Homo sapiens: one gene and its partner. The protein of the gene in region 2 interacts with the protein of the main gene of each other region in a biochemical or structural test. Each region holds a gene or a part of one and is shown on either strand. Other genes may lie near its edges.

Region 1 (3,500 bases), on a different chromosome or scaffold from region 2:
AGGTCATGAGAAGTCCTCTATTAACACTTTATCTGGACTTGCTGGCACTAGTGTAACTATTTTCTACAACGTTCTATTTCATAACTTTCTAGTACTGCCACAGACATCTTTCTAAAATACAACCTGTTCATAATGCTCTTTTGTAGATAATGGTTCAGTGACTCCTCCCTATCGCCAACTTTAAACCTACCTCCTTGACAAAGCTTATCTGGTGTGCCTGCAGCCTCACCAGATACCTTTCATTCTATTCTCTTCTCTCCCCTCCATGCCTGTCTAGAAGGCCGCCTTCACCTAGTTAACTCCTACTTGTCCTGCAGGAAAACTGGAATGGCTCCACTGGGAAACAGCTGGATCTTCCAAGCTCTATAGGCTGAGTTTTCCAGTACTTCCTTGTATAAACCTATATTATGATACCCACCTTTCAGGTTTGTAAATCTTTACTTTTCTGTACCCCTTCTAGACTATGAACAAGGACCTGATGAAGGGTAGTTACTAAAATGTTGGCTGACTCTAAAGGAGGTGCTAATTGCCTCACACTAAAAAGAGGGTAAGAGGTGACATGGAAAATTTCACATAAAGTTGGTGCCATTGGAACTGGATCTTGAGTGATGAACAGTAGTTTTGAGATGTTCAACAGAAAGAAAGGGCATTCAGATCAACGAGAATCAAATGAACAAAAGAAACATGAAAAATCACGTGTTGCAGGCATGTATGTGTGTGCTGATATGTACATACATCTTTCTAATTACTCTTCTTCTGTGGTGGTGAAGGTGCAATCTATACCACCAATATAAGCCTAATCAGCCCAACTAGGCCACAAACTTATTGGGAAGAAATGGTCATTTCTATGTACCTTCCCCACAGGCAATATATAGACAAATACAACCTATGTGTACCCATCCCTACCCAGCACCATCTAATACATATGGTATAAAGAAATGACACTGAAATAATAATCATAAATACCTATTCATTCAAGGAAAAAAGGTTTCTATTTGGTGAAAAACAGACATTTGAGTTAATCTGTTAAGAGTCCTAGGTAATTAGGAAATTACTGGGGGAAAAGAATCCTATTACTGTAATTCCTTTTAACCAAGATTCTATGCTACAGGATGAAGTAAATAAGCCAGGGAGGTGAGCTGCAACATAAATCAGCCGACTGTCACATGAGTCTCTTTAATATTACAAAATTGAGGGAGAGAAACCATTCAGATTACTACGAAGAAACATTTAAAATGAGCTCATTAAATGCAAATTAAAACAGAAACATTGAATAAGCACTGGGCTACAATTAAAGGCTGCAGAAACAGCAGGTAAGAAACAATTTTCATTGATCAAAGAACTAATAGCTAACAGAATAAAGTATTTTGCATTAAAACTGCTTTCATGAATATGAAGCATTTCGAAGTAAGAACTCTTTTTTTTGCATTTTTCAAAGAAACTTTGGAGGTAGGAATGGATTTACATATCTTAATACAAAGTACTTTCATTGTATCATTTTCAGGCAATGAAACTATGAGGTTTCAAAAAATGCAGACTTCAAAAACATCCTCAGAAATAGGGCCAAAATTGTAAAGGGCAAAGGGTCATTTTAGAGCCTTTGGACCCAAGGAAGAACTATTATATAATTACATAAAATCTTCTATGCAAAACTTTAGTAGAGCCTATTTTTGACACAATTTTACCTCATTATAAACAGAAGCTTTGGGGTACTTAGGCATAGAGCTGGTTTTCATCAACTTATCAAAATGGCAGGGCAAAGAGCAGTACACAGTATATTCAACTAGAAATATAAATTGAGACTTTAAAATTCACTGCACACAAGCTTGAAAACAAATATGCAGATGTGTAGCCAAATGGTGAAGTCGGAATATACATTCCTGATGGCAAGGGACTTTTTCTGTTGTGTTCCCTCGTTTCCCTGGCACCTAGAGCAGTTAAGGGTACATAGCAGGTGCTGGAATCACTGGATCTGCTTTTGCAAAACTAACGCACTATAAGATGAGAATGAGAAGTTTTCTTCTAAATTAATTTGAAAAGTTAAAAGATACTGTTTTTCATCTGTCAAGACGGCAAAAATAAAAAATCTTCGATGGCACATGGGAGGAAATGGGCACTCTTATACACACTGAAAGGGAGGGCAGGGCCACCAAGGACAGTTGTGCAGCTTGTACACTGAAAGGCACTACCCCTAGGGTGAGAGAGAGGTGGGGGACCGGAGATCCAGGAGGCGTTCTGCTAGTGAAAGCTGAGTCAGTCTCAGGAAGGACGTCTTTTGGCAATTTTCAGCCCAGAGGGGCAGGGCAGCTCTTTACTACCATGTTGTATTAGTGGAGGCTTTAGATAGGCTTGTAAAATTGGGCAACTTATTTTGGAAAAATTTTGAAATACCTAGGAAAATGTAAAATCTACAAACTCTTTAACTCAAATTGTCATACGATTTTTATTTTACATCTATGCTTACATGTGCAAGTAAAAAGATATGGCCACAAACACTTCTGACAACAGTTGTCTGTAAACCTAATGAGTGCTTATTTATTGGTAAATATTTTCATAATTAGTGTATCCTATAAAAGACTAGGCAGGAATCGCTGTGGAGTGGATCTGGACATGCAGATATGTAAATTCTCAAAGAGATGCTAAGTGAAACAAGGTATAGAAGAGACTATGTTCCAATGAATGGTTTTTGTCAATCAAAAATCTTCTTAAAAGTCTAAGACACTGAATGTGTATTTCAATACTGACAACATTGTTGTATATATAACCATGCACTCTAATATCTGCTGTTACTCAAATACCTAAATCCAGTTCTACAGAACATTTAGAACATACCACAAATATCCCCACTAACATTCCATTTTAAACACAAAGAATTGCTCATTTTTAAAAAAGTCAAAATATATTTTTAATAGAGGTACCAAAAATTACATTTTTCTAAATTGAATTCTTTTAAGCTTTTCTATTCTGCTTTATATCATCTTGAAGTCCTTCTCCACACTTTCCACAAAGGCACAATTTTTAACCGACTTCAATTAAATTATGTTTCTGTAGCTGCCTGGGTCAGGGCATTCAACACATCAATCACAATGCAGGTGGGAAATGTAAGTACTTTTGAAACAGTCCTCATGCCAATAAGGGAATCTTCGGTTTTGAGAAAGTAAAAGGAAGGTACATGTCATTAGCAGTGAGGTCACAGTCAGTCCTGTTTACTCCTATTCTACCAGGAAACCCATCTTTACGTTTCTCCTTAAACTAAGCCAGGATTTAAATAAAGTGGCAGAATATTATTCGCAGTAAGGTTGAGGCGGGAAATTAAAGAACAATAAAATTAAAAAGAAAGAGAAATAAGTTTTCCTGTTTTAGGCTAACTTGTTCCAGAAGCAGCAACAGGCACAGCCTAGACCCAGGAAAAGTCTTGATAATATTATCTAATATGCTCTGGAGACTCTCTCAGCACTCCCTCAACACAGGGAGAAGAAAAACAAATTTTCCTTTGTTTT
Region 2 (5,357 bases):
GAACTTTCACCAGGAAGTGAACCGAATGACCCAGGCTGCAGTCCCACATGGCTGCCCTTTCACCCCACTGCAGGTACCCCGGGATGGGTACTTTACCGTCTGAGATACTGGATTCCTGGAACATTGTTTCAAAGGCTTGGTGGATTTCAGCAAAGGAGGGCCGGTCAGAGGGATTCCACTGCCAACCTGGACAGATGAAACCCAAGTCAGATCATCCATGAGATCTGGCTAGCAATACGGGGCTAGCAGTTCTCAAGGAAAAGTCTAGAATGAAAGCAACATTCCAATCCTGCTAACCATCTTTTGCTGCAACAAGTCAAAACGATGAATGTCATCATGTCCTGTTATAGACATTAAGAATTTGAAAAGACGTTAGATGCTGGCAGGAATATGGATTGTAAAACCCCAGAGAGACAGTGACAGCAAGAACTGCATTTACAAATATATTTTTCCCAGTCCCGCTCTAGTAGGTGTAGAAAATTACTAAGCCAAACAGCTCACCTTCTATCTTGTTCTTTCTTCACGGTTATCAAAGTCTGAAGTAAAGAAATTCTCATGAAAATGAGACTAACATGAGGACTAAACAGACTGACAAAGCCTAGTACTGGGGACCAGGAACAGTCACTCCCATATGCGTCTGACTGGAGCATACAATGGCACAACCTTTTTTAACAGTTTGGTAAAATGTATCAAAATTTAAAACCCACACAGTTCTTGGAACCAACAGTTCAACTTTTAGAAATACCAGCCAAAGTGCCCAGAGATTCGTGTACATGAATATTTGTTTCTGCTTTGTTTATAAGGGCAAAAACCAAACAAATGTGTAAAACAACCAAATGCACATCAAAAGAGGACCGGATGAATGAGTGAAATGGAGTACTGGGCAGCTATACATAAATAAGAGGTAGGGAGAGGGAGAGATCTGAATATATGGACGTGGAAAGACATGTGTGGGAAAACAGTGTAAGAAATGGCCATATAAATACCTTATAAGATATATGAAAACATCCTGTGTGTGCATAGTACAGATAACACATATGTAATCAGTATAAAACGACCAGATAAAAATCACCTCGCAGCTGGGCGTGGTGGCTCACGCCTGTAATCGCAGCACTTTGGGAGGCCGAGGCAGGCAGATCACCTGAGGTTGGGAGTTGGAGACCAGCCTGACTAACATGGAGAAACCCCATCTCTACTAAAAATACAAAATTAGCCGGGCGTGGTGGTGCATGCCTGTAATCCCAGCTACTTGGGAGGCTGAGGCAGGAGAATCGCTTGAACCAGGGAGGTGGAGGTTGAAGTGAGCCAACATTGCGCCATTGTACTCCAGCCTGGGCGACAAGAGCGAAACTCCGTCTCAAAAAAAAAAAAAAAAAAAATCACCTCATGAGCTTAGCTACTATAGCAGAATGTCTGTGAAAGCAGGGCCCAGGAATCTGTATTTAGGAATACACCCAGGTTTGGTATCTATCAATACCATTTTTGCTTTAAAAGACAAGTCACGCACATACTATTTATCTGTAAATAAAGGTCAATAGGTAGCAAATGGCTACATTAGCTGCATCTGAAGAACTGGAATGGAGAGAGCTCATGGAAAAACTTTCAACTTTGTGTACACACTCCTGCACAGTTGAATTTCCTGGAATGCCCACATATACTCGTGAGAACAGGCTGAGGAAGGCTTACATGCTCGCATGAGTTCATAGACCTTCTCTGGGCAGCCTTCTGGGCGCTCCATGCGGTAGTCCTTCTCTAGCAGCTCATACACCTGGGACAGGTCAATTCCCGGGTAAGGGGACATGCCATAGGTAGCAATTTCCCAAAGCAATACTCCAAATGCTGAAAGAAAACCGAAAGAGAAAGGCTGTTCAAGATGTGTAGCATTTCACTACACTACATTTAAAATCAGTTACCTTTGCAGCAGACCTCAGAAGGGATGGCCCCAGCAGCAGCCCAGGCTCTGACATTTTACCAGGCTCTTTATCATCAGAAGACCAGGACAAGGCTGGGTGCGGTGGCTCACGCCTGTAATCCCAGCACTTTGGGAGGCTGAAGTGGGAGGATTATTTGAGGTCAGGAATTCAAGACCACCCTGGCCAACATGGCGAAACCCCATCTCTACTAAAAATACAAAAATTAGGGGCCGGGCACGGTGGCTCACACCTGTAATCCCAGCACTTTGGGAGGCCGAGGCGGGCGGATCACGAGGTCAGGAGATTGAGACCATCCTGGCTAACATGGTGAAACCCTGTCTCTACTAAAAATACAAAAAAATTAGCCGGGCGTGGTGGTAGATGCCTATAGTCCCAGCTACTCGGGAGGCTGAGGCAGGAGAATGGTGTGAACCCAGGAGGTGGAGCTTGCAGTGAGCCAAGATCAAGATCGCGCCACTGCACTCCAGGCTGGGTGACAGAGCGAGACTCCATCTCAAAAAAAAAAAAAAAATTTAGCCAGGTGTGGTGGTGTACGCCAGTAGTCCTGGCTACTTTGGAGGCTGAGGCAGGAGAATTGCTTGAACCCAGGAGACGGAGGTTGTAGTGAGCTGATATTGCTCCACTGCACGCCAGCCTGGGCGACAGAGCAAGACCCCGTCTCAAAAATAAAAAAAAAAAAAGGAGACCAGGACAGAACAAGACTCAGTAAACTTACCCCACAAACATGCTAGAGGAGGGCAGATGATGAGTTTCAGACCCTGTGGGGTCTTTTAGGTAATGTGACCATCTTGCTGGGATATGTGGTAGAAGGAACCTGGCGCCGGAAGTCAGCTGGCCATGTTAACTCTTAGCTCTGTGACCAACCAGCTCTGTGCCTAACCGGCCACCACTGCTTTCTGGGTGCACAAGACTATCTCCAAAGCCCCTTCTAACTCTAAACATTTCATAAAAATCTTATGAAATCTTTGAAAGTTTTGAAATCTGAGATTATTGCCTTAAAATTCCATTTCCCATTAAAGGATAAGATTCCTTAGAGAAATGGGTGATTCAGGCCTGGGGCACAGAATGAACCTGCAATAGCTTGTCATTTGAGGGCGCGGACGTCATGGAAAACTACAAAGTTAATGTCAAAATGACTAGGAGCTAATGTGAAGTTCCCACTGGCCAAAGACGAGACAATCTGAATATCAACAGGGAAAATAACCGCAGTGGACTGAAACACATCAGATATATATAAATCTGAGAGTTCATAATACCACCAATGACAGCAAAAACCTAATTGGCCACCACTGAAGGGTATTAAGAAACTAACTTGTGCACTTTGGGAGGCCAAGGTGGGCGGATCACGAAGTCCGGAGATCGAGACCATCCTGGCTAACGCAGTGAAACCCCGTCTCTACAAAAATAGAAAAAAAATTGGCCGAGTGTGGCGGCGGGCGCCTATAGTCTCAGCTACTCGGGAGGCTGAGGCAGGAGAATGACGTGAACCCGGAAGGCGGAGCTTGCAGTGAGCTGAGATCATGCCACTGCACTCCAGCCTGGGCGACAGAGTGAGACTGTCTCAAAAAAAAAAAAAAAAAAAAAAAGAAACCAACTTGTGGCAGGGCATGGTGGCTCACGCCTGTAATCCCAGCACTTTGGGAGGCCAAGGCAGGTGGACTGCCTGAGCTCAGAAGTTCAAGGCCAGCCTGGGCAACATGGTGAAACCCCATCTTTACTAAAAATACAAAAAAATTTAGCCAGGCGTGGTGGCAGGCACCTGTAATCCCAGCTACTTGGGAGGCTGAGGCAGAAGAATTGCTTGAATCTGGTAGGCGGAGGTTGCAGTGAGCCGAGATCATGCTACTGAACTCCAGCCTGTACTTTGTACCCCAGAAAAAGCAAGACTCTGGCTCCAAAAAAAAAAAAGAAAAAGTAATTTGTTATTTTAAAAACTGGTAAATAAAAACAAAGAAGCAAGAATTGACCCTGCTCTTCCTACATGAACTGTACCACTGAGTAACCACACAGATGAGGAACTGTTTCTCCTCATACAAGTTTCCACTAGTAACTTAACAGGAATGACAGAATTAGAGAATTCCTACCTGGCAATACCTAGCAAACTATTGGATCTAGGCACTGTATATCAGTAACTGCCAAAAATTACTCAAAAAAAAACCCCCACAAAAAAACGATAGCAAATCAAGCATTTTGGGGCCAGGCGTGGTGGCTCACGCCTGTAATCCCAGCACTTTGGGAGGCCGAGGTGGGTGGATCACGAAGTCAGGAGTTGGAGACCATCCTGGCCAACATGGTAAAACCCCGTCTCTACTAAAAATACAAAAATTAGCCGGGGGTGGTGGCATGCGCCTATAATCCCAGCTACTCAGGAGGCTGAGGCAGGAGAATCGCTTGAAACCAGAAGGCAGAGGTTGCAGTGAGCCAAGATCGTGCCACTGCACTCCAGCCTGGGCAACAAGAGCGAAACTCCGTCGGAAGGAGAAGGAGAAGAGAGGAGGGGAGGGAGAGGGGAGGAAAGGAAGGAAGGAAATAAATGAAGCATTTTGTATCTACTGATGGAAGGGCACACCATCTCCCCTGATCCACTCTTACTAAAAGAGAAACAGTCAAACCTGAATGTGATGAGGCCGTTCCAGATCCAGCCACCCATTACTAGGAATACTGAAGTCAGAGGAACATATTAAATCACACCATGGGAGACAATGAGCAAAACCCAGAACGTACGAAACTCTAAGGATGGTTTCTTCAATAAACAGCAAGGGAAATAAAGACATGGAGAGGGGGCTTATAGAGGAGACTTAACAGATCAGCAGATACACTGTGCACCATATTTGGACCTCAGGCCAAATACACAGTTAAAAAAAAAAAAAAAAGGGTGGCTGTGCACAGTGGCTCACACCTGTAATCCCAGCACTTTGGGAGGCCAAGGCAGGCAGATCACCTGAGGTCAGGAGTTCTAGACCAGCCTGGCCAACATGGTGAAACCCCATCTCTACTAAAAATACCAAAAATTAGCTGGGTGTGGTGGCGGGTGCCTATAATCCCAGCTACTCAAGATGCTGAGACAGGAGAATCGCTTGAACCCGGGAGGGAGAGGCTGCAATGAGCCAAGATTGCACCACTGCACTCCAGCCTGGGTGACAGAGTGAGACTCCGTCTCAAAAAAACAAAAAGAAAGGAAGAAAAGAAAGGGAAGAGCAAGAAAGAGGCAGAAAAAAACCCTCCTGTAGTCAGGAAGGACCACTTCAGTGCAGCAGCAGCCCTTACCCCAGACGTCGGACTTGATGGAGAACTTGTTGTAGGCCAGGCTCTCGGGTGCAGTCCATTTGATGGGGAACTTGGCTCCAGCATGGGCTGTGTAGGTGTCCCCTGTCATCAACCTGCTCAGGCCAAAATCAGCTACCTTCACCAAGTGGTTCTCCC

Evidence for each region.
Region 1: the proteins of ABL1 (region 2) and PRKN form a complex in vitro, tested with the Homo sapiens proteins (2 studies listed by BioGRID, with this or other methods).

What each region holds. Positions count from the first base shown.
Region 1 is NC_000006.12:162,721,267-162,724,766, forward strand, and holds part of PRKN (E3 ubiquitin-protein ligase parkin), read right to left. Parts: intron 1-3,500. UniProt on the Homo sapiens protein: Functions within a multiprotein E3 ubiquitin ligase complex, catalyzing the covalent attachment of ubiquitin moieties onto substrate proteins. Substrates include SYT11 and VDAC1.
Region 2 is NC_000009.12:130,874,897-130,880,253, reverse strand, and holds part of ABL1 (tyrosine-protein kinase ABL1), read right to left. Parts: coding exon 5,202-5,357; intron 1,840-5,201; coding exon 1,687-1,839; intron 187-1,686; coding exon 97-186; intron 1-96. UniProt on the Homo sapiens protein: Non-receptor tyrosine-protein kinase that plays a role in many key processes linked to cell growth and survival such as cytoskeleton remodeling in response to extracellular stimuli, cell motility and adhesion, receptor endocytosis, autophagy, DNA damage response and apoptosis.